Homo sapiens: one gene and its partners. The protein of the gene in region 1 interacts with the protein of each later gene in a biochemical or structural test. Each region holds a gene or a part of one and is shown in the gene's direction. Other genes may lie near its edges.

Region 1 (3,797 bases):
GCAGAGAGGTGGGGGGAAAAAAGAGGGAGAAGAATTTTATGGATTAAGAGATTCGAGTGACACAGGAACCCAGAGAAAACCCCCAAAGCGTAATATTAATGCTCCCTTTGACTTCCCCATCCCTGGCATACTGAGGACATATAACGTTCAAATCCTTTATCCCCTAGGACAACCAGCCTCTGATGTCACCTATAAATTCCTGACCCCTGATGTCACTGTGATCTGATATCCCCTTACCACCCCACCCTGGCATCTCTGGCAGAATATCTTCCCTTCCACCTAACTTTGGCTCTTCTGGCACCCTGGGGAGAAGGTTGGGTGGCGGGTGCTGTTTCCCTCCAGGCACTTTCATCTCTGCCCTGTCTTCCTCAGCTTATTCCCAGCACCTGGACAATGAGATCAGTCACAGCAGCTACCTGGGCACCGACTACCCCACAGCCATGACCCCCACTTCCCCTCGGCGCTACTCTCCAGTGGCCAAGGACCTGCTCGGGGAGGAAGACATTCCCCGAGAACCGAGGCGAATTGTGATCCACCGGGGCTCCACGGGCCTGGGCTTCAACATCGTGGGTGGCGAGGACGGTGAAGGCATCTTCATCTCCTTTATCCTGGCCGGGGGCCCTGCAGACCTCAGTGGGGAGCTGCGGAAGGGGGACCAGATCCTGTCGGTGAGGGAAGGCCTGCCCCTACCTGCACCACCCCCTCCCCACAGGGCAGAGCGCAGAGCTCTTGGGGAGGGGCCTGGATGGGCTGCAGCCGAGTCCTCTTGCGGGACCACTCCCTGCTCCACCTGGACCCAGAAGTGCTGCCTCCTGTCTCTGGTGACACAGCCTGTCGTCCTCTCTCTAGGTCAACGGTGTGGACCTCCGAAATGCCAGCCATGAGCAGGCTGCCATTGCCCTGAAGAATGCGGGTCAGACGGTCACGATCATCGCTCAGTATAAACCAGAAGGTACCAGGCCGGAAGTTCCTTGTCTTGTGAGCTGAAATGGCCCTTAGAACTCTTCCTCAGCTGATGGCTTCAGTAGGGGAGGACAGGGGTGACAGTAGGATGGGGACAGAGCTCAGAAACCTCCCTGTCCTTCCTCAGAGTACAGCCGATTCGAGGCCAAGATCCACGACCTTCGGGAACAGCTCATGAACAGCAGCCTGGGCTCAGGGACTGCGTCCCTGCGGAGCAACCCCAAAAGGGGTTTCTACATCAGGTCAGAGGCTTCCCGGGCTGGACTCCTCAGCCCCTCTGCGTTCCTGGGCACTCTGTGCCTGGCCCGGGCCTCAGCCGCTCCTCTTCTCCACCCTGCCTGCTCTAGCTCCCCACCCCAGGCCTGAGGCGCAGCCAGGGTTCATGGGCTTGGCTGCACAGGTTAACATTTGAAATACTCCCTGTCGATGGGAAAATAGCCTCTGCCCCAAGTATCCCAATTGCCTTCTAGCCCCTGGTCATCCCAGCACTTCCCCGGGACTCCCAGGCCACCCCACAATTTGGCGTCTCGAAGGTTAATGCTTGGTGAAGCAGGGTCCTCTAGGGTATTTGGAGTGTTGCCCCAGCCTTCACGTCCCTGTGGGCAGTCCCGGAGACGTGGGCCGCAGCTCTGTGGTGCCTGCCCCCGTCTCTCCAGCGGCATTTTGCTCCCCTCTTAGGGCTCGTCTCCATTGACTCTTTTTGTGGCTTAGGTTTCTGCCAAAACACACCTCTCTCCCGCCCCCGGGGGTCACCCCTCCACTTCTGTCCCTGTCTGGCCCTGTGGCTTGCATGGCCTCGTCTGCCGCTGCGCTCTGCAGATGTCTCTCGGAGGTGCTGGCCCTGGCTGACCTATTTCCAGAGGTCAAGACCTGCACTTCTGGCCATTGGCTTTCTGGCCATCTCCACTGGGATGTCCCACAGGCGTCCCACACTCAACATGTCCCACGCTGAGCTCATCATCCTGCTGTGGGCCTGGGTTCCATCTTGCTGTGCCAGCAGTTTCCCTCTTGTTGGATGGCATCACCAGCCACCCAGACACTGGCTCCCACCTGAGCCCTTGCTCTGCCCTTCCTCCCTGCTCGGGTCCGGTTGGTCCCCAAGGTTGTTCTGACTCCCAGTGACCACAGAGGTTGTGTAGTGGCTCCCAGGCGGAATGTCATCTGGTTGTCACACTTCCAGGGGGCCCGGGGTCTCCTCCCTCCTCTCCAGGCCCATTGCTTTCTTCTGTGTCTTCATTACTTCCCTGGTTCTGACCCCAGGGGTTGTGACTTACTGATAGAAATTTGATACTGGTAAGGGTAACCATTATTTGGAAACACGGGACATTTTCTTTTTCTTATGAATTTGGGCAGATTCAGGGTTACCCCTGTGACTTTATGATGTGCGTGTGTACTGCACACTGCTTTCTGTTTTTCTTTTTCTTTTTCTTTTTTTTTTTTTTTGAGACGGTGTCTCGCTCCGTTGCCCAGGCTGGAGTGCAGTGGCGTGATCTCTGCTCACTGCAAGCTCCGCCTCCTGGGTTCATGCCATTTTCCTGCCTCAGCCTCCCGAGAAGCTGGGAATACAGGCACCCGCCACCGTGCCCGGCTAATATTTTGTATTTTTAGTAGAGACGGGGTTTCACCATGGTCTCAATCTCCTGACCTTGTGATCCGCCCGCCTTGGCCTCCCAAAGTCAGCTGGGATTCCAGGTGGGAGCCACCACGCCTGGCCCAAACTGCTTTCTTGAGAGGGTCAAGTTCAAGCCCTGCCTCTGGAAACTGTGCTCAGTGTGGACTGAGTGATGGCTAATAGTTGTTATGAGTTATAGTCAGCGTTTGGTCCCCACACAGTTTTGGGTTCCTCGGCATCCATAGCTCCCATGGGAGTGCCATCTGCAGACCTCTGGGCCGGGTCTTTGGGTGACTGGGGCATCCTTCCTGGAGTCCTCAGCTGGGCTCTGACCGATAGCCACTTGCCCTCCAGGGCCCTGTTTGATTACGACAAGACCAAGGACTGCGGCTTCCTGAGCCAGGCCCTGAGCTTCCGCTTTGGGGATGTGCTGCATGTCATCGATGCTAGTGATGAGGAGTGGTGGCAGGCACGGCGGGTCCACTCTGACAGTGAGACCGACGACATTGGGTTCATCCCCAGCAAACGGCGGTGAGGCTCCTGGGCTCTGTAGCCTTCCTGCCACAGGCACTGAAGTTCCCAAGGTCCCCCGGGGTGGGCAGCCAACAGGGGATGGGTTTGCCCTCTGAACTCCTAGGGGTTTGTCTGTTGGGCCCTCCTGGGGTCCGTGGCTCCCATGAGCCTTTGGGAAGGACAACTCCTTATTGAGGAGCACAGTGTCCAGGGCTGCAGGAGAAGGGGTGTCAGCTGGCCCAGAGTATGGAGAAGGGGTTGTCAGCTGGCTCAGAGCATGGGGGTGGCAGGGGGTAGGCATTCCCCTACCCGCGTATCCCTCCATGTATCCCACAGGGTTGAGCGACGAGAGTGGTCAAGGTTAAAGGCCAAGGTAGGTGGAGGAGGGTGTGAGCCTGGGTGGAAGTGTGAGGGCTCATGGAGCTGAGCTCATAACTAACCCCGTGGCCTGCTTTTTCTTCTTAGGACTGGGGCTCCAGCTCTGGATCGCAGGGTAGGTAGGGTTAGTTCGGGAAGATGTGGGTGAGAGGAGCACTGAGTTGCTTTTGATATCCTCAAGGGGGAGACAGGGCTCCAGGTCCCCTGTTTCAGAGCCCCTTGCAGATGCCCCACCTCCCACCAGGTCGAGAAGACTCGGTTCTGAGCTACGAGACAGTGACGCAGATGGAAGGTGAGCCCTGGCCCCTGCCTTGGCCCCAGCACTTGCTGC
Region 2 (4,322 bases), about 35 Mb from region 1:
CAGTCTTGGCTCACTGCAACCTCTGCCTCCTAGGTTCAAGCAATTCTCCTGCCTCATCCTCCTAAGTAGCTGGGACTACAGGCATGCGCCACCATGCCCAGCTAATTTTTGTATTTTTAGTAGAGATGGGGGTGTCACTATGTTGGCCAGGCTGGTCTTGAATTCCTGACCTCAAGTGATCCACCCACCTCAGCCTCCCAAAGTGCTGGGATTACAGGCGTGAGCCACTGCGCCCGGCCTTCTTTCCTTTTTTTGAGGTAGGGACTCGCTCTGTCCCTTAGGCTAGAGTGCAGTGGCGTGATCACAGCTCACTGCATCCTTGAATTCCTGGGTTCAAGCAATCCTCCCGCCCAGCCTCCCAAGTAGCTGGGTCCACAGGTGTGCACCACCATGCCCAGCTAATTTTTAAAGTTTTGTGTAGAGACAGGGTCTTGCTATGTTGCCCAGGCTGGTCTTGGACTCCTGAGCTCAAGCATTTGTCCCATCTCAGCCTCCCAAAGTGCTGGGATTATGGGCATGAGCCACCATGCCCAGCTGAAGCTCAGCTTTCTGTGTCTTTCCCTACCATGGAGACAGTAGCAGGGACCAGAGCAGAGTTGGGACAGGGGCTTGGCAATCAATAAGCTGCTTATTTAGGGGAGACTCCTCCTCTTCCTTGATTGAGAAGGTAATATCTGGCTGGGGCAGTGGCTTACACCTGTAATCCCAACCGCTCTGAAGGTTGAGGCAGGAGGATTGCTTGAGGCCGGGACTTTGAGACCAGCCTGCCAGCCTGTGCAACATAGCAAGACCCCATCTCTTAAAAAAAAAAAAAAAAATTAGCCAAGCATGGTGGCATGTGCACGTGGTCCTAGCTACTCGGGAGGCTGAGGCGGAAGGATTGCTTGAGCCCAGGAGTTCAAGGCTGCAGTGAGCCATGATTGTGCCACTATACTCCAGCTTGGGCAACAGAGCGAGACCTTGTCTCAAAAAAGAGAAAGAAAATAAAAAAAGTAATATCTGATCATTGTAAAAAAAACTGGGGGCCAGCCGCGGTGGCTCACGCCTGTAATCCCAGCACTTTGGGAGGCCGAGGCGGGCGCATCACGAGGTCAGGAGATCGAGACCATCCTGGCTAACATGGTGAAACCCCGTCTCTACTAAAAAATACAAAGAATTAGCTGGGCGTTGTGGCAGGCACCTGTAGTTCCAGCTACTGTGGAGGCTGAGGCAGGAGAATGGCGTGAACCCGGGAGGCGGAGCTTGCAGTGAGCCAAGATTGTGCCACTGCACTCCAGCCTGGGTGACATCTGTCTCAAAAAAAAAAAAAAAAAAAAATTGGGAAGTTTAGAAAAGTTTAAGAGAAAAGAAAAAAAATCGCCCATAATCCTAAAAAGCAACTTTCATTAAGGTCTCTTCCTCTTTTTTTTTTTTTGAGACGGAGTTTTGCTCTTGTTGCCCAGGCTGGAGTACAGTGGCACAATCTCAGCTCACTGCAACCTCTGCCTTCTGGTTTCAAGCGATTCTCCTGCCTCAGCCTCCTGAGTAGCTGGGATTACAGGCACCTGCCACCATGCCTGGCTAGTTTTTTGTATTTTTAGTAGAGACGGGGTTTCACCATGTTGGCCAGGCTGGTTTCAAACTCCAGACCTTGTGATCCACCCGCCTTGGCCTCCCAAAGTCCTGGGATTACAGGCATGAGCCACCACGCCCAGCCAAGTCTCTTCCTCTTTTCTTAGCATCCTTTTTTTCTTTTTTTTTGAGACGGAGTCTCGCTCTGTCACCCAGGCTGGAGTGCAGTGGCAGGATCTCGGCTCACTGCAAGCTCCGCCTCCTGGGTTCATGCCATTCTCCTGCCTCAGCCTCCCGAGTAGCTGGGACTACAGGCACCCGCTAACACGCCCGGCTAATTTTTTATATTTTTAGTAGAGATGAGGTTTCACCGTATTAGCCAGTATGGTCTCGATCTCCTGACCTCGTGATCCGCCCGCCTCGGCCTCCCAAAGTGCTGGGATTACAGGCATGAGCCACCGTGCTCGGCAACATCCTTTTGTTCTTTAGCCTTGATCTTGATGAGCTCATCCCCTGTATATAGTAACATTTTTTTTTTTTGAGATGGGGTCTCACTGTGTTGCCCAGGCTGGAGTGCAGATCTCAGCTCACTGCAACCTCCTCTTCCTGGGCTCAAGCGATCCTCCTACCTCAGCCTCCCAAGTAGCTGGGACTACAGGCACATGCCACCACGCCCGGCTAATTTTTGCATTTTTTTGTAGAGACAGGGTTTCGCCATGTTGCCCAGACTGGTCTGGAGCTCCTGAGCTCAAGGGGATTCACCTGCCTTGGCCTCCTAAAGTGCTGGGATTACAGGGGTGAGCCACTGCACCCTGCCTACAGTAACAGATTTTAGCCAAAACTTTATTCCAATCCTGGTTTTCCAGCATGTGTTGTACAATAAACAGATGGATCTTCCCAGGAGAGGGTTATATGTAGGGATCCTTGCAGAATCACACCCCAGGGAGTGGGCCTCAGTCAGCTGGGATCGGAGCTGCTGTTATTGAGAAGTGGGCCGCCCCTGGACCCCAGGCTGCCCAAGCCCCACTGGTGGTGGTTGGAGGCAGTGGAATGAGAGTACTTGTGTATTTTGCGTCACCAACACACGTCAACCTTTTGTTGTTGTTTCCTGGTGTGGGGTGAAGTGTTTTTCCATTCCCAGGAGTCCCGGTTTGGGGTCATCTGCCAGTTTGGGAATCTGCCCACGGGGGTCACCAGCAGGGAACGGAGCTCCAGCTGGAGCCCTCTCCAGGGGAGCATAGAGGTCCCTGGGTCGAGCCACTTGGCCGTGGCAAATTCCCTCTCCTACAAATCCCCTTCATTTTCCTACCCGGGTTTGTTTGCTTTGGGAAGGAGCCCAGAAGGAGGAAAATAAACAGCAGCTGGGTCGGCAGGCCTGAGCCTCCCCCAGGCCCCAGCTCATCCTCAGGCCACAGCCTGGGCTGCTCTCCAGACTGGAAGTGAGGGTTTTCCTCCGGAAGCCTAAGACCAGCTTGTCTGACAGCTCCTGCTTCAGTTCTGCCCTCTTGGAATGGACCAGCTTGCTGATGGAGACCACAGTGTCTGCCAGAGAACCTGTAGTCTGCAGGAGGTTCCGTCCTGGAGCTGCCAGCCAGAGGGGAGAGGCCTCCTTGGGCAGCCCCAGCCTGAGAGGGAAACAGGCCCTCAAGGGAAGCCATCATGTCCATCTCTCTGGACTTTCTAGAGTCTGTGTCTGTGCTTGGAACTGCTGGCCAGACCTCAGCAGGAGCCAGGGACAGAGTGGGGAAGGTGGGGGCTGGAGATCCTGCTGAGCCCAGCTTCCCCCTGGGACTGCTATGTGGGGAATGTTCACGCCTGGCTGTGCAGCTGCCCCTGGCTGCAGGAAGCAGCATGGACTGGGCATAGGGCAGCCAGTGTCTCCACCTGGCGTGAGCGAAGTTCCACTCCCCTTCTCCTCAGCCATGTTCCCTTGACCTCCCCAGGGCCTGGGAGGCAGCTCCCTACCTAGTCCCCATCTCAGGGGTCAGAGAAAGCAGCCAGGGCTCCCCCAGACAGACTGCCATCCACCTTGCCCGACAGGTCTCTGTGCCAGCCCTCGCCTTTTTAAATTTTTATTATTTTTCTTTTTTTTTGAGACAGAGTCTCGCACTGTATCCCTGGCTGGAATGCAATTGGTGCGATCTCGGCTCACTGCAACCTCCGCCTCCCAGGTTCAAGTGATTCGCCTGCCTCAGCCTCCCGAGTAGCTGGGATTACAGGTGCCCACCACCACGCCTGGCTAATTTTTTGTATTTTTAGTAGAGATGGGGTTTCACTATGTTGGCCAGGCTGGTCTCAAACTCCTGACCTTGTGATCCACCCACCTTGGCCTCCCAATATGCTGGGATTACAGGCGTGAGCCACCGCGCCTGGCCCCCTCACCTTTTTGTTTTGAGACACGGTCTCGCTCTGTTGCCTAGGCTGGAGTGGCATGATCCTGGCTCACTGCAGCCTCAATCACCTGGGCTCAAGTGATGCTTCAGCTTCCAGAGTAGCTGGGACTGCAGGTGCATGCCACCATGCCCGGCTAATTTCTTTTTATTTTTTGTAGAGACAGGGTCTTACTATGTTGCCCAGGCTGGTTTCGAACTCCTGGGCTCAAACGACCCTCCCACCTCCGCCTTCCAAAATGCTGGGATTATAGGCACGAGCCACTGCGCCAGCTGGCTTCCGCCTCCTCTGCCATCTCTTTGTTCTTCTAGCATGAGAATGCATGCCTTTCCTGTGGACAGAGGGCTTCCAGAGTCACAGTGACAAAAGAAGTCACTTGA
Region 3 (5,055 bases), on another chromosome or scaffold:
AGTGCTGGGATTACAGGTGTGAGCCACCGTGCCCGACCTTTTTTTTTTTTTAAAGACAGGATCTCACTCTGTCAACCAGGCTGGAGTGCAGTGCCATGATCATAGCTCACTGCAATACCACCACGCCCAGCTAATTTTAAAATTTTTTGTGGAGTGGGTGGGGGGGGTCTCCCTATGTTGCTCAGGCTGGTCTTGAGCTCCTGGGCTCAAGTGATCCTCCCGCCTCAGTCTCCCAAAGCACTAGGATTGCAGGTGTGAGCCACCATGCCTGGCTGTGGCTGACCCTTTGTATGCCTAAATCAGGCAGTCATTGGCTACCCCTGTCAGTGGGGGTGAAACCTCCAGGTGGTTTCTAGGCTAGCTGACTCCTGCCAGCCAAGCACAATTCTCCAGAGAACACAGGCATATAAGCCTTGTCCACCAGCGAAGCAGCAGCTGGGGCCGGGCACATTGGTGGTGAAGGCCTTCTGGGTGAGACATCAACAGTGTTTGCAACAATCATTTAAAGAGTTATTTAACATCAGGCTGGGTGTGGTGGCTCATGCCTGTAATCCTAACACTTTGGGAGGCTGAGGTAGGCAGATCACTTGAGGTCAGGAGTTTGAGACCAGTCTGGCCAACGTGGTGAAACCCTGTCTCTACTAAAAATACAAAAAAAAGCCGGGCGCAGTGACTCACGCCTGTAATCCCAGCACTTTGGGAGGCCCAGGTGGGCAGATCACCTGAGGTCTGGAGTTTGAGACCAGCCTGATCAACATGGAGAAATCCCCCTCTCTACTAAAAATACAAAATTAGTTGGGTGTGGTGGCGCATGCCTGTAATCCCAGCTACTCGGGAGGCTGAGGCAGGAGAATCTCTTGAACCTGGGAAGCAGAGGTTGCAGTGAGCCGAGATCACACCACTGCACTCCAATGTGGGCAGCAAGAGCGAGACTCTGTCTCAAAAAAAAAAAAAAAAAAAAAGAGAGAGTCATTAAACATCAAAAGGAAAAGAAAGCAAGCAATATGCAGACTGACTCTATAGAGGCTGGCTCTTTTCTCCCCTTGGCCTCTGCTGTCTATACTTACTAGTTGGCTGTCATTGAAACTTAACAAATGGCCAGGTGTGGTGGCTCATGCCTGTAATCCCAGCAGTTTGGGAGGCCAAGGCAGGCAGATCACCTGAGGCAAGGAGTTCGAGACTATCGACAAAGTGAGACTCCATCTCAAAAAAAAAAAAAACCAAAAAAAGAAAGAAAAAGAAACTTAACAAACATATGTAGAAGTCTTGGCTCTAGATAACTGAGAGAAATAGGACTGGCTTAGTGAGTTGCCAATTATATTCTAATAATAGGATTCTTTATTAAAACAACTGTGGAAGAAAACAGTGTTTGCTTTTTATTCCTTTTGAAATCTGGGGCACTTTGCAAAATGGAAATCAATGCCTCGACTTGCATTGGTGTGTGATCTGGGGTTTTTGCTTCTGCAGGAGAAGCCCTATCTGGCTTATTGGCTGCCTGCCTTGCCCTATGTCTTTCTTTCTTTTTTTTTTTTTTAATTTGTATAAATGTGTGAAGTACAAGTGTAATTTTGTTAGATGCATACATCGCATAGTGGTGAAGTCAGGGCTTTTAGGGTATCCATAACCCCAACAATGTACATTGTATCTGTTAAGTAATCTCCCATTATCCTTGCCCTGTCATCTAAGGAGTGGGCTTGTTACTTTGGACTGAGCCACCTGGGGCTAGAGAAGAGAAGGCATTGAGTGAGGGAAACGGGCTTGGGAATTCCGGAGATTGTTATCCTGCCCTGCCCGCTGTCTGAGGGGATTCTCCTCAAGTACCCTGGAATGTTCCTGTGGCCCCTGTGGATCGCCACCACAAAGATCATGAGGTTCTGTTGCCCTGGCAACCCGTTGTCCAGCGCCTCTGCACTGGGGCTGCCAAGGTTCCAGGAAGAGGCAGGACTGCCCGGCCCAGCCTTGGAGGAAGACTTCTGGGCAGAAGCGGAACACAGGAGCAGAGACACATAGTCTTGGCTCCAGTTTCGTTTCAGTTATGCCCACCCTTTCAGTGTTCATGGATGTGCCCCTCGCCCACAAGCTAGAGGGCAGCTTGTTAAAGACCTACAAACAAGATGATTACCCGAACAAGATATTCTTAGCCTATAGAGGTAGATGCCTAGCAGTTCTGAAGTATAAGACTTAAGTGATGGTAACTGCCTCTAGGAGGACAGTGTTCCCTGCTGCAGGGGGAGGGGTGCAGCCCAAGCTTCTGTGGGTGGAGAGATCTTTTCTTGTTAACAGAATTACCCAGTGGGGAAAAGTGCAGATAAGGTCCCAGGTCATTCCATGCTCTCTGCCCTTCTCTGGGGGCTTCTAGGGATTTGGTGAGAGCTATGTCCTCTTCCACAACTCTATGCTTGGGGGCCTGCATGGCCATCCCACACTTCTTCAGATTCTTACCTCCTCTCTCTCTCTTTCTCTTTCTCTTCCTGTTCTTGAACCAAGAATGGTTCTCCAGATTGAGCTTTCTGCTATGCAACTGGGGCTCACCACTGTGAAAGTCAGGGTTACCTTTATTTAGCTTCATCTACCTATAACTCTCATTTTGCATATATATATATATATATATATATATATATATATATATATATTTTTTTTTTTTTTTTCTTGAGACAGGGCCTCACTCTGTTGCCCAGGCTGAAGTGCAGTGGCAAGATCTCAGCTCACTGCCACCTTTGCCTCCTGGGCTCAAACCATCCTCTTGCCTCAGCCTCCTGAGTAGCTGGGACTACAGGCGCTGGTCACCATGTCTGGCTGTTTTGTATTTTTTTGTAGAGACAGGGTTTCATCATGTTGCCCAGGCTGATCTTGAACTCCTGAACTCAAGTGATCCACCCACCTTAGCCTCCCGAAGTGCTGGGATTACAGGCCTGAGCCACCAATCCTGGGCTTGTATAATTTTTAACCTTTAAAATGGCATAGGTTTCAGTTGTCTTTTTTAAAAAGACAAAAATAATACACATTCACTAACAGCATATTCTTTTCATCAAGGAGAAAAGAAAAGGGAAAGTTGTATTTTCACAGGCACCTTCCCACAGCCCCATGGAGTCCAGGAGAGATTTGTTTGCAGGCTGTCTGCAGAGCTCAGCCCTGGGGGCCCAAACCAGGCATCTGGAGCTCCCTCTGTGGTTTTCCTCACAGTCTGCATGACAAATGAAGGCCATCCCTGGGTTTCTCTCGTGGTGCAGAAGACTCGACTACAGATTTCACAGGATCCCTCCCTGAATTATGAGTACTTGCCCACCATGGGCCTGAAATCATTCATCCAGGCCTCTCTAGCACTCCTCTTTGGAAAGCACAGCCAAGCCATTGTGGAGAACAGGGTGAGAAGGTGGGCCCTCCCCTGGCTCATTTAGACACAGAGAGTGGCGATCTGGGTCTGCACAACCTTAAACCCGAAGGGGACCTCGGAGGGCCCCCTGGTATTGATAAAAGAGATACCTGAGGCTCAGAGAGTCCACAAGTCCTTAGCCATCGAGTCAGGATCGGAATCTCAGTCCAGTGGTATTCCCACCTGCTCACACTGCTGATTTGAAAGCTCTTTCAAGACAGGAATGATCTGAATTGGAGGTGGTGTTAGTATTCCCATTACTGTTTTATTTTTTAACCTATTATATATATTTTTTGAGACAGAGTCTCACTCTGTCACCCAGGCTAGAGTGCAGTGGTGCCATCTCAGCTCACTGCAACCTCCACCTCCCAGGTTCAAGCAATTCTGGTGCTGCATCCTCCTGAGTAGCTGGAATCACAGGCATGTGCCATCACGCCCAGCTAATTTTTGTATTTTTTGTAGAGACAGGGTTTCACCATGTTGGCCAGGCTGGTCTCAAACTCCTGGCCTCAGGGGATTCCCTGCCTCGTCCTCCCAAAGTGCTGGGATTACAGGCATGAGCTACTGCGTCTCGCCTCCATTACTGTTTTAGAGTGTTATTTCTGTCTATTTCTTTTTATTTTTTAATGTTTATTTACTTATTATTTTTTTGAGACGGAGTCTCACTCTGTCACCCAGACTGGAGTGCAGTGGCCTGATCTCCGCTCACTGCAACTTCCGCCTTCCGGGTTCAAGTGATTCTCCTGCCTCAGCCTCTTGAGTAGCGGGGATTACACATGCCCAACACCACATCCGGCTAATTTTTGTATTTTTAGTAGATACGGGGTTTCAACATGTTGGCCATGACCTCGAGTGATCCACCCACCCCAGCCTCCCAAAGTGCTGGAATTACAGGTGTGAGCCACCACACCTGGCCTATTTGTGTCTATGTCTTGCTGGCAGGTAGGGGGTGTACACACTGTTGGTGACAGTGGTGCCTTCCAGCTTGGCGTCCAGTTTCTCAGAGCTTGGCATAAGGATGCTCGTATAGTTTACATCATCTCTTCTCAAAAAGGTTAGTCTTACCCAAGATGAGGGGAACAGCAATCCCCGTCCCTTGTTCCTAATCCTCACCCCATTTGCCATCTTCACTGTTATCCCTCATTCTCTGTCATGAGCAAAATGGCAGACAAGCCAAGCTATTTATGTCCTTTTCCTGTTAATGTCCCACCTTCAGCCAGTGACTCTCAGCCCCACACTCCAGTACCTCTGTCTCCGTCTCTCTGTTTCCCATGTACCAGCTAGTGGGGGGCTGTGTTCCCACAGAACTGCATGGACTCGTCTTCCAGGACATGGGCTTTACAGTTTATGAATACTCTGTCTGGGACCCCAAGAAGCTATGCATGGACCCCGACATACTCCTCAATGTGGTGGAGGTAGAGGGGCCCCGCTCAGAAACTCCTCCCTAGAGCTGACTTACAGCCTAATGTTCCTCTCCTCCCCACACCTCTTAAGTCATCCAAGACCTTTTCCAGGTTTGAATTTGCCTGGCCCTTCAATGGTAACTAACATGGAGGAGCACTTCACCCCCAAATGCCCTGGGGCCGCCACTCCTGGGTGGGGGTGAAGCCTGATGAGACCGTCTGTACCTGCAGCAGATCCCACATGGCTGTGTCCTTGTGATGGGGAACATTATCGACTGC
Region 4 (4,812 bases), on another chromosome or scaffold:
AGTACAGGTGCCCATTCCTGAGAGTTTCAGCTTCACATTAAAAAAAAAAAAATGAGACATAATTAAGGGACCATAAAATTCACCCGCTTAAAATGTACAATTCAATAGTTTTTAGTATACTTAGTTGTGCACTCATCATAATCCTAGAATATTTTCATCCAAAAAAGAAAACCTGTACCCATTATTCAGCTTCATTTTTAATCGTGTATATCTCCCCCCAGGAGTGGTAATAAAACTTTCAGGCTGGTCACCTTCCAACGAGAAAAAACATGCAGCCTGGGGCTCCATGGGAACGGGTTATCACTTGGCAGGCCTGGGTAAACAAAAGGCTTGAGCCGGCCCTGCCAAGATGTCTTTTTCAATGTTTTTGAAAAGATAATAAATGTGCATGGCAGTGGTAAAAGTGCCTACTTAGGAGGCAACCCGTTTAGCAGTTTCTTGTGTGTCTTCTCGGAGAGATCCTCCTCAGAGGTTTTTTGTTTTATTTTGCTTTTGAGACAAGGTCTCTGTCGCCCAGGCTGGAGTGCAGTGGCGTGATCACTGCAGTCTCGACCTCCCGGGCTCAAGCGATCTTCCCGCCTCAGCCTCCCAAGTAGCTGGGACCACAGATGAGTCGCCATGCCCAGCTAATTTTTAAAATTTTTTTGTAGAGACGGGGGTCTCGAACTCCTTAGCTCAATCAATCCGCCCGCGTCAGCCTCCCGAAGTGTTGGGATTACAGGCGGGAGCCACCACACCCGGCATCGCGGAGGTTTCAGTCAGCATTATTTACGCCTCAGGAGAAGAGGAACCAAATTGGCTGCGGAGTAGGGTGTCGTTGAAAGGCCTAGGTCGGCCTACGGCGCGTGCCGCTGCCTCTTAGTTGAAGATCGACCCCAATAGCTTGCTGCTGTCCCTCTCTGGGTGACCGCACGCTGAGGGTGGGGCGTCACTAAACACTGATTACCCGTGCGCCTCGAAAACTGGAACCTAACTATGCATGGAGGGCGGGTCCTCTGGCGTCTGCACAGATGTCACTGGCCCAACTGGCACCCACCTGGGGGCCTAGCCAGAAATTGTTCCCAAGGCTGCATTGCTGAGTTTGCATGCAGACACCCAGTGAGTGTAAGCGTGTGCGTGCTGAGTGAGCACGTGTGTGCGCGTTATGTGCTCTGTGTTCACACATTGAGTGAGGATGTGTGTGCACGGTGTCTGAGAAACTGCACCCTACATCTACACACGCTTTGAGTGTGTATCTGCTACTGTGAGAAGATGCATTTACGCTGGGTGTGCACGTTGTGTGTGCATGTTGCATGTAAGCATCGTATGAAGAACTGTGTGCGTACGCACGCCTTCTGTGTGTGCACTGTGTACAGCAGCGTGTAAGGACGCGTGCACGCCCGTACGCGCTGTGTGAGGACTGTTGTGCACATTGCATGCACACGCTACAAGCGCGCGCCGCGTGAGAACCGGTGCGCCTATCGCACGTGCACGCCCTGCGTGCGCTGTGCGTGGAAGCGGTGCGCCTATCGCACGTGCACGCCTTGCGTGCGCTGTGCGTGGTAACCGGTGCGCTTATCGCACGTGCACGCCCTGCGCGCGTGCTGCGTGAGGACGCGTGCGCATGCGGACGCGCGCGGGTTCGGTGCGGCGCGGCGGGCTTGGCAGTGCGCCTGTGCGGCCGGCGCATCCCGATGGAGCGCGGCGGCGGCGGCTCCGGGACGGGATCCCGGCCTGAGGGGACTGCGCGGGGAACCTCTCTCCCAGGGAAGATCGCAGAACCGGGCGCGGTGCGGACCTCTCAGCCCAACTACCGGCCTCAAGGTATTATCCCCAGAGTGTGGCGGGCGCCCGAGGGCTTCGGGTTCCTGTGGGGGGGCGGGCCCGGCGGCCCAGGGCAAAGGTCCTCGAGCGTGGGGGGAAGGGGCACGGCGCAGAGCTGAGATAAACGCCCTTTCCCTGGCCCAGGATCGTCCGGACGTGCATCCAAGGGCCGCACCCCTCTCTGTGCGAGTGGCGGGGTTCTTTCTTGGGGCGACCTGGGTGAGTGGGTACACATGGGGGGTGGCTTAGGGTGGGCGGCAGGTGTGTTTGGGATGGAGGTGCCTGAGGGGGTGCTGCGGGTCCAGTCCCCGTCCTCGAGGAGCAGCCGGCATGGGGGTCGTTAGGATAAACCGAGCGGGGTTCTGGGGTTGCCCCGGCCTCCGCGCGCGCTCTCTCTGCGTTCTGGGAAACGCGCGCGAGCGCCGCTGCAGCCCGCGGCGAAGGTGGCCCAGCTTCGCGCCTCTTGGCGTTTCCAGGGGGCAAAATCGGCGTGTCACCCATTGGCAGAGGCAGATTCGCCCGGGCGGCCAGGCGTCTGCCCCGGACCGGGTGCTCCTCCCGCCCGGATGCGCTCCCTGTCTTGGGAACGCTGCTCAGGTGGCCGGGCCGCGGCCCTCAATCGAGGCAGCGGGGCAAACAAGGCTCTCAGCCCTCGAGGCTGCCGATGCTGGGAGCCATGGAGGGCTGGTCCCTGGCTGCCCAGAAGCCAGCGAGGCAGCGGAGGAGACTGTGAGGACATTTGGCAGGATTTTAGATAAGCAGGTCTGATGCTAACGTTCTGTAAAGTGGTTGCAGGTAGTGCGGGGGTGTAAGCAGCATGGAAACCGATTTCATGCTGTTTTTCCTGACAACAACTTTTTTATTTTTAGTTAATAAGGCAGGCTATTTTTAAAACATTTTTTATTGCAGTCTAATATGCATTTAAAAAACCACACAAAACTATAATTCGATGAATTATCACATAGTGAAGATGGGAGTATTTTATATACGATGGGCCAAGAAAAGGAAAGAAATCAAGAGAAATCTTCTTAAAACACGCTTTTTCACTGGGGTTGAGGGGGCGAGGTAGTATTTTCTGACTGGGCCTTCAGTTGCATCATTCTTAGGAGGAGGAGATAGCTTAAATCATTTCCAGTTTGTATTTTTCATTATGCTATTTTAAAGGCAGAATTCATTAACTGTCACAGGATAACGTTATAACTACCTTTGAAATGTGTGCTTTTGTTTTTATCCTTTTTGCTTGAAACACTCAAGCTGCATCTGCTAGGGAAGAACCTGGAAACTACCCACCAGAACGACCCTCCGTGGCAGAGGCGACCTTGTATAATAAAACACTGAAAAGGAGAGGTTGTTTCAGTTTGCATTTTTATTTGGTTGAGAGCTTAAATAATAGTTTGTTTCGATGTTCTGTTGTACTCATGAGAGGTGGGGAGGGGCGGTATGATTGGGTTTTCAGTGTATCTTGGATTTTATTTGAAGGAACTTAAGGGGTTTTTTTTTTTTTTTTTTTAATGGAAACAAAATTGGGGAAGGGGAGGAGGTACTTTTGCGGGGGAGATTCTTAATAAGTTCTGTTTGGAAACTATTGTAGAATCATTTAATGCACTCTTCTGATATTAAGATTAGCTTAAGGATATCTTCCTTCATTTGAAATTGGAAATATAGAAAAATATGTGTGAAGGTTTAAAATGTGAAATAAGCACCTATGTGCATTAAGGTTGGTATGGTAAAATTGGAATGTTTAATTTAGGTGCCAGGTGATACCACCATTTGTTGTTTGGGGGAGTTAGCAAGGCCAGGTACTTAAGTAAAGTCTCCTTAGAAAAATTATGATTTTGAGGTTTTATAATTATCTGTCCTGGATACTGATCATTCTTGGTTACCCAGGCCCTTAGCATTTGGGACCCATTCCTAATGAGACTTAACCTGCTTTTCTAGAGAGTCAACCATTGTTCCTAAGCTTGGGCTGGGTGCTGTCAAGGCTGCAAAATACAGAAAGACCTGAGATGTTTAGGCTGTCCAACAATTTTGTGTTGCACACTTAGGGGATATGAGTTGGCAAGTGGTTTTCCTGGGAGCTGTGTAAAAGACGGAAAGGAAATACCGCTGGTGGTTTCCTCTAGCAACAGGTTCTTCCGATATTGAAATCCTGTGCATGTTCCCATTACCCCCTAGTGATGCCTTCTTTCTTTCCTTTTAATTACCTCTGAATAGAAATTACCAGATCTACTGTCCATTTTAGTGCTTGTCTGATACACATAGTATAACAAATGAGCAAGTGCTTGTTTCAATCTGCTTAACAACCTTTAACCAGCAGATAGAATCACCAGATCTCAACCATATTTCCTTTCTTTCTTTTTAGATGAAGTCTCACTCTGTTGTCCATGCTGGAGTGCAGTGGCACAATCTTAGCTCACTGCAACTTCTGCGCCACCATGCCCAGGATCCCAGCACTTTGGGAGGCCGAGGCAGGTGGATCACTTGAGGTCAGGAGTTTGAGACCAGTCTGGCTAACATGGTGAAACCCTATCTCTACTAAAAATACGAACATTAGCCGGGCCTGGTGGCGCATGCTTGTAATCGTAGCTACTTGGGAGGCTGAGGCATAGGATCGCTTGAACCCAGGAAGCGGAGGTTGCAGTGAGCTGACCTCGCGCCACTGTACTCCAGCCTGGGTGACAGAGCGAGACTCCGTCTCGAAAGAAAAACAAAATAGGGTGGGGCCTGGAGATAGAGAGTAGGTGGTTATTGGAGACTGCGAAGGGTACTGGGGGGTGGGAAGGAGGTAGGAATGGTTAATGGGTATAAAAAAATAGAATGAATTAATAAGGCCTGGTATTTGATAGCACAACAGGGTAATTATAGTCAATAATAATTTAATTGTTCATTTAAAAATAACTACTAGTATGACTGGATTGTTTGTAACACAAAGGATAAATGCTTGAGGGGGATGGCTAACCTGTTTTGCATGATATGATTATTTCATATTGCATGCCTGTACCAAAACAT
Region 5 (3,074 bases), on another chromosome or scaffold:
TGCCCCCACCCCACAGCACCCCTTCCGGTGCCAGCCTGTGCATGTCCCACAGCATGGAGGAGTGCGAGGCGCTGTGCACGCGGCTGGCCATCATGGTGAACGGTCGCCTGCGGTGCCTGGGCAGCATCCAGCACCTGAAGAACCGGTGAGCCGGGGCAGGGCCAGGGGTGGGCTGGGGCGGGCCCGGGGGGGGCGGCCAGGCAGCGGGGCCAGGAGTGGGGGTGGCTGCAGGGCTGTGAGGGCTGTGGGGCCAGGGGGGCTGGGGGCACTGGGGCTGGGGGGACTGGGGCAGTGGGGCCAGGGGAGGAGCCTGGAGGGCTGTGGGGGCTGTGGGGTTGGGGGGCTGTGGGAGGCTATGGGGCTTCCTGGGGTGCCTGTGGGGGCTGTAGGGCTGGGAGGCTGGGGGGCTGGGGCTCTGGCTGGGCGGCGCAGGGCTCCGGGCCACCGGCCTGTCCCACCAGGTTTGGAGATGGCTACATGATCACGGTGCGGACCAAGAGCAGCCAGAGTGTGAAGGACGTGGTGCGGTTCTTCAACCGCAACTTCCCGGAAGCCATGCTCAAGGTGCGCCGTCCCGGGCAGGGTTGTGGAGGGGGCGCTACGGGGTGGGGGGGCGCTGCCAGGCCTCTGACCTCCCCCCCTGCAGGAGCGGCACCACACAAAGGTGCAGTACCAGCTCAAGTCGGAGCACATCTCGCTGGCCCAGGTGTTCAGCAAGATGGAGCAGGTGTCTGGCGTGCTGGGCATCGAGGACTACTCGGTCAGCCAGACCACACTGGACAATGTGAGCGCCCCAAGGGCACTGCGCACCACACCTGCCCCTCCCCTCACCCGCCCTGCCCCTCCTCACCCCAGACCAGCCCCCTCCCCACACGCCTGCGCCACCCACCAGGTGTTCGTGAACTTTGCCAAGAAGCAGAGTGACAACCTGGAGCAGCAGGAGACGGAGCCGCCATCCGCACTGCAGTCCCCTCTCGGCTGCTTGCTCAGCCTGCTCCGGCCCCGGTCTGCCCCCACGGAGCTCCGGGCACTTGTGGCAGACGAGCCCGAGGACCTGGACACGGAGGACGAGGGCCTCATCAGCTTCGAGGAGGAGCGGGTGAGCAGGCTGCTCTCATGGCTGTCCAGGGCTCTGCCCACTGGACCCAGGCTGCCTGGTGGCTCCAGCCGCGGGTGGGGTCGGGGGAGAACTGGCCCCAGGATGCTTGCTGTCCAGAGGTCAAGGGGGCAGAGTGGGCGAGGGACACTTGCAGATAGGCCTGGAGAGACGTAACTGCATGGTCCAGACTTGCTAGAGTCTTTGAGGGGCACAGAGCAAGGGTGGGGCAGAGGGGACCAGAGCCGGGGAACAGGGGACCGATGTAGACTCAGTGGCCCCCAGACTCGGCAGACGGAGGCCCGGGAGAGCCCAGACACAGAGGGAGCTCGTGGGGAGACCCTGCGTCCAGGCCCAGCCTGCAGGAGGGCCGGGGCGGGCCAGCACAAGTGTCCTCAGCCCCAGCAGGGGGTGGCACAGGATGCCCCATAAGCCTGACCTCCCCTGTGCACAGGCCCAGCTGTCCTTCAACACGGACACGCTCTGCTGACCACCCAGAGCTGGGCCAGGGAGGACACGCTCCACTGACCACCCAGAGCTGGGCCAGGGACTCAACAATGGGGACAGAAGTCCCCCAGTGCCTGCCAGGGCCTGGAGTGGAGGTTCAGGACCAAGGGGCTTCTGGTCCTCCAGCCCCTGTACTCGGCCATGCCCTGTGGTCACTGCGGTTGCCGCCCCTAATTGTGCCAAAGGCTGACCCGGCCCGGGCTGCGTACACCCTTGCCCTGCTTTGCCTTAAAGCCTCGGGGTCTGCCCGGCCCCTCGCCCCTGCCTGGCACTGCTCACCGCCCAAGGCGACGCCGGCTGGACCAGGCACTGCTGGCCTTTCTCCTGCCCGGCCTCGGAACCAGCTTTTCTCTCTTACGATGAAGGCTGATGCCGAGAGCGGGCTGTGGGCGGAGCTGGGTCAGTCCCGTATTTATTTTGCTTTGAGAAGAGGCTCCTCTGGCCCTGCTCTCCTGCAGGGAGGTGGCTGTCCTGCGGGAAGCCATCAGCTTGGGCCAGCTGGCAGGTGGCAGGAATGGAGAAGCTGACCCTGCTGGCCAGGCAAGGGGCCAGACCCCCCCCAACCCCCAGCTGCCATCGCTCTCCCACCCAGCTTGGCCCCCTGCCCGCCCACCTCCCTGGGAGCCGGGCCTGTACATAGCGCACAGATGTTTGTTTTAAATAAATAAACAAAATGTCTGCGGGTCTGCGTGTGTGGGTTGGGAAGGGTGGGGAGGATGGGCGCATCAGGTGGGTTAGCGCTCCAGAAGGCCCTGCCCCTCAGGCACAGGTGCTGGCAGGGGGTGGCTGGGTCGGTCTGGAGGAGGGAAACTGAGGCAGGGTGGTTCACCATGGTTCACTGTCCCCCTCATCCCACCCTCAGGGGTTGCTCCCGGCCCCCTTCCCCTTAGCCTTCATCTTCCCGTCCACCTGCCCTCTCTAAGCCTCCTTCACCCCTTGCTGCCCACGTGGGGCCTGCAGCAGCCTGGGCTAGGCTGTCTCCGTGTCATGGAAGGGACAGCGAGGGCTTCCAGGAAGAGGCGACCTCCAGGAGGAGACCGAAGTCTGTGAAGATTCCTTAAGGGAAGGGCATCCCAGCCAGAGGGCAGGGCACAGGCCAAGGCCCCAGGGAGGCAGGACCTGGAAGCTTTGAGGCTCATCAGCGGTGGAGCCTGGCACACTGTGGGCAGGAGATGGGGGAGGGGCATGAATGGCCCCCAGAGCTCACGCCCCGTGATCTGGGCCAAGTTCAGACTCTTGCCTTAGGCCGTTTCAAGGCTCCTCAGGAGGGTAGAGGGTGGACTCACTGAGGGCTGGTGCCACATGGGGGACAACAGGGGAGGGGCCCATGGGCTTGAGGGCACTGGGTGGGCTGGGCCAACACATCCACTTGGGTTCCTATGAGGCACTCACTGTGACCACCTGAGAGGCAGTGGGATGACCATGCTGGAGTCCCTGAGAGGCTGGGTCACTGGGGTGAAGCTGTCCTGGG
Region 6 (4,314 bases), on another chromosome or scaffold:
AAATACATAGTTTAAAAGTGAAGAGTAGGCTGGGTATAGTGACTCAGGCCTGTAATCCCAACACTTTAAGAGGCGCCAAGGTGGAAGGATCACTTGAGCCAAGGAGTTTGAGACCAGCCAGGGTAACAAATAGCAAGATCTTCTTTGTCTCTACAAAAAATAAAAAAATTAGCTGGGCATAGTGGTGCACACCTATAGTCCCAGCTACTAGAGAGGCTAAGGCAGGAGGATAACTTGAGCCTGGAGTTTGAGGTTTCAGTGAGCTATGATTGCACCACTGTACTCCGGCCTGGGTGACACAGTCAGACCTTGTTTAAAAAAATTTCTTAAAAAATCAAGAGTAAATATCAACTTTTAGCCTTAGACTATGTCCTTTTTACTAGGAAACTAATGTCTAATTATAACCAAAACAGGCCTACTTGCTTTAGAAAACAGGTATGGCTACATTTATGTCTCAAATCTGTCTTAAGTAGAGCAGTTCTTATAAAACTGGTGTCTGGTTTTTAAATTTTACACTTTAAGTGCTTTAAATATACAAGTTGAGTATCCCTAATCCAAAAATCTGAAATCTTTAAGATGCTCCAAAATCGACATGACACACAAAGGAAGTGTTCATTAGAGCATTCTGGATTTTCAGGTTAAGAATGCTCAACAAGTATAACGCTAATATTCTAAAATAAAAAAAAAATCAGAAATCCAAAACACTTCTGGTCCCAAGCATTTCAGATAATGGATACTCAACCCATACCATATTTTTAATACTTTAAGCCATTGTATATTGCATAAGAGATATTTTGCTATAATTCACTATTTATTATACAGAAGTTTGATCAGGTTAAAGGATAAACTATTTTCTTGAGTTTATATTCTACCCAGATCAATACAAAATCTTTAAGATTATTCAATAATATACCAAAGGGCCTCAATCTCAGGGGAAAAACTAGTGGGCTGGAAATTTTCAAAAACACATACAATTTAAGTGATTAAAGTTTAGACAAATCCTATTTGTACCAATGGCTTCAGAAATACTACAATAGTAGAGCTGAAAGAGATCTTGGCTGCCATCCGTTTAATCTCATTTCTCCTTCAGAAAAACCAGGGTTATGGTACTGAACTATCGTTTCCTGTCTCCCCTCAGGTAGCTGAAAATAAGGTCATAATAATTACTGATATTCCCACATTCCTTCAGAGTTTACAAAGTATCTCTTTGTTTATTATCTCATTTGTTCCTTACAATTATTTTGTGTGGTAGACACAACAGTCACTACTACCGGGATTTTTTTTTTATAACAATAGATAAAACTGAGACTCAGAGAAACTAAACAAAATTTTACCAATTTGGCATGGCTCATGGAGCCAATAGGTAATTTGAACCCAAGCTGTCTGATACTCTTTCCATCACTCATGCTGCCTCCCTGTAGATGAGATGATAAAGAATATAACTTAAATTTGGGCCAGGCACGGTGGCTCATGACTGTAATCCCAACACTTTAGGAGGCTGAGGTGGGCAGATCACTTGAGGCCAGGAGTTAGAGATCAGCCTGGCTAACATGGCAAAACTCTGTGTCCACTAAAAAAAATACAAAAATTAGTTGGGTGTGGTGCACACCTGTAATCCCAGCTACTCAGGAGGCTGTGGCAGGAGACTTCCTTGAACCTGGGAGGCGGAGGTTGCAGTGAACCAAGATCACGCCACTGCGCTCCAGCCTGGGCAAAAGAGCGAGACTCTGTCTCAAAAAAAAAAAAAAAAAAAAAAAAAAAAAAGAATATGACTTTAGTTTGAATGAAATATAATTATCTGATTATCAATTCAATGCATCATTACATTAGAGTTTAGAATTCTGAATGGTATAACAAAATAGTACTGCATGTCTTTTTTACTGAGTTTCTTTCTGTTGCTGTTGCTTTTTAACATTTTAATATCAACATACAAATTTCATAATACCTTGGTTTGATTTAATACCTTTTTTATAATATTTCAAATACTTGAATTTTTGTATTAATATATAGCAAAAGAACATAAAAGAGCACCAATGTTTATCTACAAACCACAGAGCAAAAAAGTTTTAGAGGGAGATTCAGTGAAACTAGAATGCCAGATCTCGGCTATACCTCCACCAAAGCTTTTCTGGAAAAGAAATAATGAAATGGTACAATTCAACACTGACCGAATAAGGTAGGATATGTATTTCTAGACTTACTATAGTTTATTTGGGTGAATCCAGTTATACTTTTTAACATGCATTATAAATGGCATGCATTTATCTCAATTTGTCTAGTTTTTAAAACACTAAAGAATAATATAATAAAATATATATTAGATAAAAATGTAAGAAAACTTCAGTAAGCCAGATTCCACTAATCAGAAATGTAAGGCATAAAGTAGACTAGGATTTATCTTTTTATCAACGATGATGAAAGATGGCCCAAGGAAATAAATGACATAAACAAGATTAAAGGGGGATGTTTTCTTTTCTTTTCTTTCTTTACAAAAAGCTTCAGCCTTTATTAAACAAAGGAGGAGGTAGGAGACAGATAACGGAACAGGTCAGGACCCCTCCATTCCCCTATACATACGCATAAATACAAACACAGACACACCCGAGTGAATGACAGGGACCATCAGGGGACAGATTGAAGAGCAGAGGGAGACAGCACCCAAGGGGGGATGTTTAATTCAAGAAAACCAATAGCTATTTGGCAATAAATAGATACAGCTTTGGAATTTTCAAATGTTTTTTTCTTCCTAGTCTGACTGTTGGTCAGAGACATCCACTTCACAGAAATAATTCCTGTACTTTCATTTCTTAAAAATTTTTATTTCAGCTTATATCAAGATAACACTGGAAGAGTTACTTTACTGATAAAAGATGTAAACAAGAAAGATGCTGGGTGGTATACTGTGTCAGCAGTTAATGAAGCTGGAGTGACTACATGTAACACAAGATTAGACGTTACGGGTATGTCATACTATTAACCAAAGTATTATAAGGGATTTAACTAGGAAGATTTAATAAGAAATGAAAATCCCAGCAGAGTATAAAATTTGAGATATTTTCCCCATATATAATCAGTTTTGGTTCTTTTTTCTTTTCCTGTCTGATAATAAATACCTAGTGTGACCAATTTGGTTAGAACAGGTTTTCTGAATCAACTTTTATGTGATCTATTTCAGCACGTCCAAACCAAACTCTTCCAGCTCCTAAGCAGTTACGGGTTCGACCAACATTCAGCAAATATTTAGCACTTAATGGGAAAGGTTTGAATGTAAAACAAGCTTTTAACCCAGAAGGAGAATTTCAGCGTTTGGCAGCTCAATCTGGACTCTATGAAAGTGAAGAACTTTAATAACTTTACCAACATTGGAAAACAGCCAACTACACCATTAGTAATATATTTGATTACATTTTTTTGAAATTAATCCATAGCTGTATTAACAGATTATGGTTTTAATTAGGTAATATAGTTAATATATATTTATAATATTATTTATCCTTTGACTCTTGCACATTCTATGTACCCCTCCGATTTGTGAAGCCTACAGGAAATCTGGGTATATGGATTTGTAACTGCAGAAGACTATCTTAAAATACAGGATTTTAACATTTAAGTCATGCACATTTAACAATTACAGGTTATAAATTAGTATCAACTTTTTAAACACATCTAATGCTTGTAATAACGTTTACTGGTACTGCTTTCTAAATACTGTTTTACCCGTTTTCTCTTGTAGGAATACTAACATGGTATAGATTATCTGAGTGTTCCACAGTTGTATGTCAAAAGAAAATAAAATTCAAATATTTAAAACGGACTGTCTCCTCTTCACAAAAGTCTAGATCTGTAAAATAAAACTCCACTCAGCAAAACCTATGAATAACAAGTTCCAAAAGAGCAATGTTATATTCTAGAACAGTGTGAAGCTCACTTACAGCTCAGCCAATTCCTCTAGAAACTAAGCTAGACTTGCCATGGTTTGCACTTCAAAGGCAATCACAAGAACTTAAATCATGACTGAATCTACTGAATTTGTGATTTTGTTTTAACCAAACAGGTTTCTAATTCTTCAGGATTTTTCAGTCTGTTATGCTCAAAGGAATAAGAATAGTCTCTAGAGATTACCTGCTTAATTCTCATAGTTAATGTAAATTTGACAGCCCGGTAGTCCCAGCTGCTGGGAGAGGTTGAGCTGGGGATCCCTTAAGATCAGGAGTTTGAGGCCAGACTGGGAAATATAGCGAGACTCCATCTCTAAAAAAAAAAAAATTATGTAAATTTGATTACCTATATATGGGTGTTTTTCCTCTAATAATT
Region 7 (4,322 bases), on another chromosome or scaffold:
GGCATGTGCCTAGAGTCCCAGCTACTCCAGAGGCTGAGGTGGGACGATCGCTTGAACCCGGGAGGTGGAGGCTGCCGTGAGCCATGATTGCGACGCTACCCTCCAGCCTGGGTGACAGAGTTCATCCTAAGATATATTTATTTTGTCTCAAAATAAATAATACAAATAGGGCTGGGGCTGTGTCTCATACCTGTAATCGCAGCACTTTGGGAGGCTGAGGTGAGAGGACCACTTGAGCCCAGGAGTTCAAGACCAGCCTGGACAACATAATGAGACCTCATTTCCATTAAAAAAAAAAAAAAAAAAAAAGTCCAGGCGTGGTGGCTCATGCCTGTAATCCCAGCACTTTGGGAGGCTGAGGTGGGCCAATCATCTGAGGTCAGAAGTTCAAGACCAGCCCGGCCAACATGGTGAAACCCTGTCTCTACAAAAATAGAAAAATTAACTGGGCATGGTGCCGGGTGCCTGTAATCCCGGCTACTTGGGAGACTGAGGGAGGAGAATCACTTGAACCCAGGAGATGGAGGTTGCAGTGAGCTGCAATCGCGCCATTGCACTTCAGCCTGGGAGACAGAGCAAGTCTCTGACTCAATAAATAAATAAATAAATAAATAAATAAATAAATAAATAAATAAAATGTAGGCTGGGCGCCACGGCTCACGCCTGTCATCCCAGCATTTTGGGAGGCCGTGGCTGGTAGGTCAGTTGAGCTCAGGAGTTTGCGACCAGCCTGGCCAACATGGTGAAACCCCATCCCTACCAAAAAATATAAAAATCAGCCAGGGATGGTGGTGCAGGCCTGCAATCCCAGCGACCTGGGAGGCTGAGGCAGGAGAATTGCTTGAACCTGGGAGGCGGAGGCTGCAGTGAGCTGAGATCGCGCCATTCCACTCCAGCCTGGATGATAGAGCAGGACTCTGTCTCAAAAAAATGAAAAAAAAGAATAAAAAATAAAAACAAATATATATATATATATATATATGGCATCTGTATTTGGACTCCACACAAGATTGGCCTCTGGGTTTTTCCTGATGCCATGGTTTCTCCAATGGCCTCCATCTATGATGTTCCTTTACTCCTTTTGCTCTGTACCCCATGCCCGTACCTCTTTTACCCCATTGGCCTCTCCACTCTAGTATTCCCATTATCTCCACAGTGCACCCCAGTTCCCATGCATTCTCTCCAAGTCCCAGGAAATCAAAATCCCTCACAAACTAGACAGCATTTGTTCCCCTAAATGACCTCTGCCAGGACACACATACACACTTAGTTGTGGATGAGGTCTGCATTCTGAGCCCAGAAAACCCTACTTTCCTCTTTCCCTTGATTCTTCTTCTTTGCCTCCCTGAAAGGTGGACAGGAGAGCTCAGGCTTGAACCTGGGCAAAAAGATCAGTGTCCCAAGGGATGTGATGTTGGAGGAACTGTCGCTGCTTACCAACCGGGGCTCCAAGATGTTCAAACTGCGGCAGATGAGGGTGGAGAAGTTTATTTATGAGAACCACCCTGATGTTTTCTCTGACAGCTCAATGGTGAGTCTGGAACTTTATCACTATCTCAAAGCCTGGTGCCTGTTCTGACAGCTTGTTAGTAGGCCCTGAACCTCCAAAATGCAGTCAACATCCCCTCCCTGAAAATTTATAAATTTGTTAAACCCCCAGATATATTGAGCCCGCAACAGCTCCAGGGTGAGTTACAGCCCACCTCTGAAACCCAGTTTTCATCATAGAGCCACTGAAGGGTTGGAGAATACCACACCCTTAGGGAGAAAATTCCTTCCCAGTAAAGGTAAGTGTTAAAGATAGATTGCCAGATAAAACACAGGATGCCCAGTGGGGCAGTCCAGTCTTGTATTTTGAAGTTGAGATACACAATGAATAATTTTTTAGTGAAGTATGCTCCATGCAATATTTGGGACATAAAGATAAAAATTTAAAAAAATTTTAGAAAGAAGATAAGGCAGCCAGGCATGGTGGCTCACACCTGTAATCCCAGCACTTTGGGAGGCCGAGGCAGGTGGGTCACCTGAGGTCAGGAGTTTGAGACCAGCCTGGCCAACATGGTGAAACCCCCATCTCTACTAAAAATACAAAAAATTAGCTGGGCGTGGTCGTGGGTTCCTGTGATCCCAGGTACTCAGGAGGCTGAGGCAGGAGAATCACTTGAACCCAGGAGGTGGAGTTGCAGTGAGCCCAGATTGTGCCACTGCACTCCAGCCTGGGCAACAAGAGTGAAACTCTGTCTCAAAAAAAAAAAAAAAAGAAAGAAAAAAGAAAAAAGGAAGAAGATAAGGCAAAGAATAAAATTGAAATTTTAAAATACAGAATATACAATTAAATTTGAGTTTCAGATGCACAATGAATTCTTTTTTAAATATGTCCCATGCAATATTTGGGACATTAAAATAAAAATACAGGATGTCCACTTAAATTTGAATTTCAGATGCAAATGAATAATTTTTTTAGTATAAGTAAGTCCCAAGCAATATTTGGAGGCATATCTATACTAAAAAAGTATTTGGGTCAAGTGTGGTAGCTCACACCTGTAATCCCAGCACTTTGGGATGCCAAGGCAAGAGGACTGCTTGAGTCCAGGAGTTGGAGACCAGCCTGGGCAACATGGCAAGACTCTGTTTCTACAAAAAATTAAAAAGTTAGCTGGGTCTGGTGGCGCACACCTGTAATCCCAGCTACTCTGGAGGGTGAGGTGGGAGGATGGCTTGAGCCTGGAAGGTAGAGGATGCATGAACATGAGCCATGTTCACACCACTGCACTCCAGCCTGGGTGACAGAGAACCCATCTAAAAAAAAAAAATAAAAATTTGTTGTGCATCTGAAATTCAAATTTAAGTGGTATCCTATATTTGATTTGCTAAATCTGGCAACCCTAGAAAGAGTTAATTGAGTTTTTACAGCCACCTCCCATTTGAGCCATTCTTCCATTTAAAGGGTCAGTCTATTCCCTAAGAAGCCCCAGGTGTGGAGACTGAAACGGTCCTTCAAGATATATTCTAGTCAGGCTCCTTCTCCAAAGAAAGAGGAGACTGGAGAGGGGCCAGGCACAGGATGGTATAGCTGAGGAAGAAGGGCCTTCTCCATTTCCTTTCTTCCTCCTCCACCCTCTCTGAGTGGCTGGGGGAGAGTGGAAATAGATGCCTGCATGGGGCCGGGGGCAGAAGTGTCTGTCATTGGTCCTCATATAGGAGCAGAGTAAAAGTGCTGAGCTGCTCATATCTAACTTTAGGAGGCCAAAAGCACTCTTCTCTGCCTGGGTCTGGTTACACTGGGTGGAGCATTGGGGTGTACATGGTGGGATGGCCAGGAGAGCCTCCTGAAGAAGTTGGTGGGGTTATTTTTAGGCTTTGGGTTTGCATCTAATGTTGCCCTTTTGGCCACACTTCCCCCCACCTGCTACAGTGTCACTGTCACCAGTGAGGTCCAACAGGCACCAAGAGGAGAGAGGAAGAGAAAGAAGGAGAGAGAAGAGAGTTCTGACTGTTGGACAAGCTGAGGAAGGGAGGGGGCAGAATTTCTCTAGTCCTTGTAATTAAGACTGGGTGCTCCATGGCAACCCCATCCTCCCAAATTTTAGTTGGGGCTGGACACAGCTCATGCCTGTTATCTCAGCACTTTGGGAGGCTGAGGCAGATGGATCACTTGAGCCCAGGAGTTTGAGACCAGCCTGGGCACATGGCAAACCCTGTCTCTAGGAAAAAAAAAAATACAAAATTTAGCTGGGTGTGGTAGCATGCCAGTAGTCCCAGCTACTTGAGAGGCTGAGGTGGGAGGATTGCCTGAGCCAGGGAGGTGGAGGTTGCAGTGAGCCGAGATTGTGTCACTGCACTCCAACCTGGGTGACAGAGCCAGATTCTGTCTCAAAAAGCAAAAGAATTTTTTTTCATTTTTTTTTTTTAAAGCTGGGCAGGCGTGTTGGTCTTTTTTGACTTGTTAAGGATGAGAAAGGGGAGTGTGGAGAACACGCTGCCCTTACCCTAGGTATAACTGGAGGAAACGAGCCAAGGGAGTCCTACCTCTTAAGAAGAGTTTAATTCGGGCTGGGTGCGGTGGCTAACGCCTGTAATCCCGGCACTTTGGGAGGCCGAGGTGGGTGGATCATCTGAGGTCGGAGTTTGAGACCAGCCGGACCAACGTGCAGAAACCCCACCTCTACTAAAAATATATCAAATTAGCCGGGTGTGATGGTGCATGCCTGTAATCCCAGCTACTCGGGAGGCTGAGGCTGGGAATTGCTTGAACCTGGAAGGCTGAGGTTGCGGTGAGCCGAGATCGTGCCATCACACTCCAGCCTGGGCAACAAGGGCGA

Evidence for each region.
Region 2: the proteins of DLG4 (region 1) and JUP interact in a test that uses a peptide from one of them, tested with the Homo sapiens proteins (one large-scale study listed by IntAct).
Region 3: the proteins of DLG4 (region 1) and GOT1L1 interact in a test that uses a peptide from one of them, tested with the Homo sapiens proteins (one large-scale study listed by IntAct).
Region 4: the proteins of DLG4 (region 1) and MAP7D2 interact in a test that uses a peptide from one of them, tested with the Homo sapiens proteins (one large-scale study listed by IntAct).
Region 5: the proteins of DLG4 (region 1) and ABCA2 interact in a test that uses a peptide from one of them, tested with the Homo sapiens proteins (one large-scale study listed by IntAct).
Region 6: the proteins of DLG4 (region 1) and MYOT interact in a test that uses a peptide from one of them, tested with the Homo sapiens proteins (one large-scale study listed by IntAct).
Region 7: the proteins of DLG4 (region 1) and MYOZ1 interact in a test that uses a peptide from one of them, tested with the Homo sapiens proteins (one large-scale study listed by IntAct).

What each region holds. Positions count from the first base shown.
Region 1 is NC_000017.11:7,193,628-7,197,424, reverse strand, and holds part of DLG4 (disks large homolog 4), read left to right. Parts: intron 1-372; coding exon 373-668; intron 669-849; coding exon 850-952; intron 953-1,090; coding exon 1,091-1,205; intron 1,206-2,929; coding exon 2,930-3,106; intron 3,107-3,424; coding exon 3,425-3,461; intron 3,462-3,553; coding exon 3,554-3,581; intron 3,582-3,710; coding exon 3,711-3,758; intron 3,759-3,797. UniProt on the Homo sapiens protein: Postsynaptic scaffolding protein that plays a critical role in synaptogenesis and synaptic plasticity by providing a platform for the postsynaptic clustering of crucial synaptic proteins.
Region 2 is NC_000017.11:41,776,329-41,780,650, reverse strand, and holds part of JUP (junction plakoglobin), read left to right. Parts: intron 1-4,322. UniProt on the Homo sapiens protein: Common junctional plaque protein. The membrane-associated plaques are architectural elements in an important strategic position to influence the arrangement and function of both the cytoskeleton and the cells within the tissue.
Region 3 is NC_000008.11:37,937,010-37,942,064, reverse strand, and holds the start of GOT1L1 (putative aspartate aminotransferase, cytoplasmic 2), read left to right. Parts: upstream 1-1,940; 5' UTR 1,941-2,035; coding exon 2,036-2,150; intron 2,151-3,183; coding exon 3,184-3,365; intron 3,366-4,315; coding exon 4,316-4,427; intron 4,428-4,678; coding exon 4,679-4,788; intron 4,789-5,007; coding exon 5,008-5,055.
Region 4 is NC_000023.11:20,113,741-20,118,552, reverse strand, and holds the start of MAP7D2 (MAP7 domain-containing protein 2), read left to right. Parts: upstream 1-1,645; 5' UTR 1,646-1,673; coding exon 1,674-1,803; intron 1,804-1,912; exon of another isoform or gene 1,913-2,022; intron 2,023-4,812. UniProt on the Homo sapiens protein: Microtubule-stabilizing protein that plays a role in the control of cell motility and neurite outgrowth via direct binding to the microtubule. Acts as a critical cofactor for kinesin transport.
Region 5 is NC_000009.12:137,006,441-137,009,514, reverse strand, and holds the end of ABCA2 (ATP-binding cassette sub-family A member 2), read left to right. Parts: intron 1-52; coding exon 53-145; intron 146-461; coding exon 462-564; intron 565-646; coding exon 647-784; intron 785-892; coding exon 893-1,099; intron 1,100-1,550; coding exon 1,551-1,586; 3' UTR 1,587-2,281; downstream 2,282-3,074. UniProt on the Homo sapiens protein: Probable lipid transporter that modulates cholesterol sequestration in the late endosome/lysosome by regulating the intracellular sphingolipid metabolism, in turn participates in cholesterol homeostasis.
Region 6 is NC_000005.10:137,884,038-137,888,351, forward strand, and holds the end of MYOT (myotilin), read left to right. Parts: intron 1-2,010; coding exon 2,011-2,176; intron 2,177-2,826; coding exon 2,827-2,960; intron 2,961-3,175; coding exon 3,176-3,348; 3' UTR 3,349-3,814; downstream 3,815-4,314. UniProt on the Homo sapiens protein: Component of a complex of multiple actin cross-linking proteins. Involved in the control of myofibril assembly and stability at the Z lines in muscle cells.
Region 7 is NC_000010.11:73,634,953-73,639,274, reverse strand, and holds part of MYOZ1 (myozenin-1), read left to right. Parts: intron 1-1,352; coding exon 1,353-1,531; intron 1,532-4,322. UniProt on the Homo sapiens protein: Myozenins may serve as intracellular binding proteins involved in linking Z-disk proteins such as alpha-actinin, gamma-filamin, TCAP/telethonin, LDB3/ZASP and localizing calcineurin signaling to the sarcomere.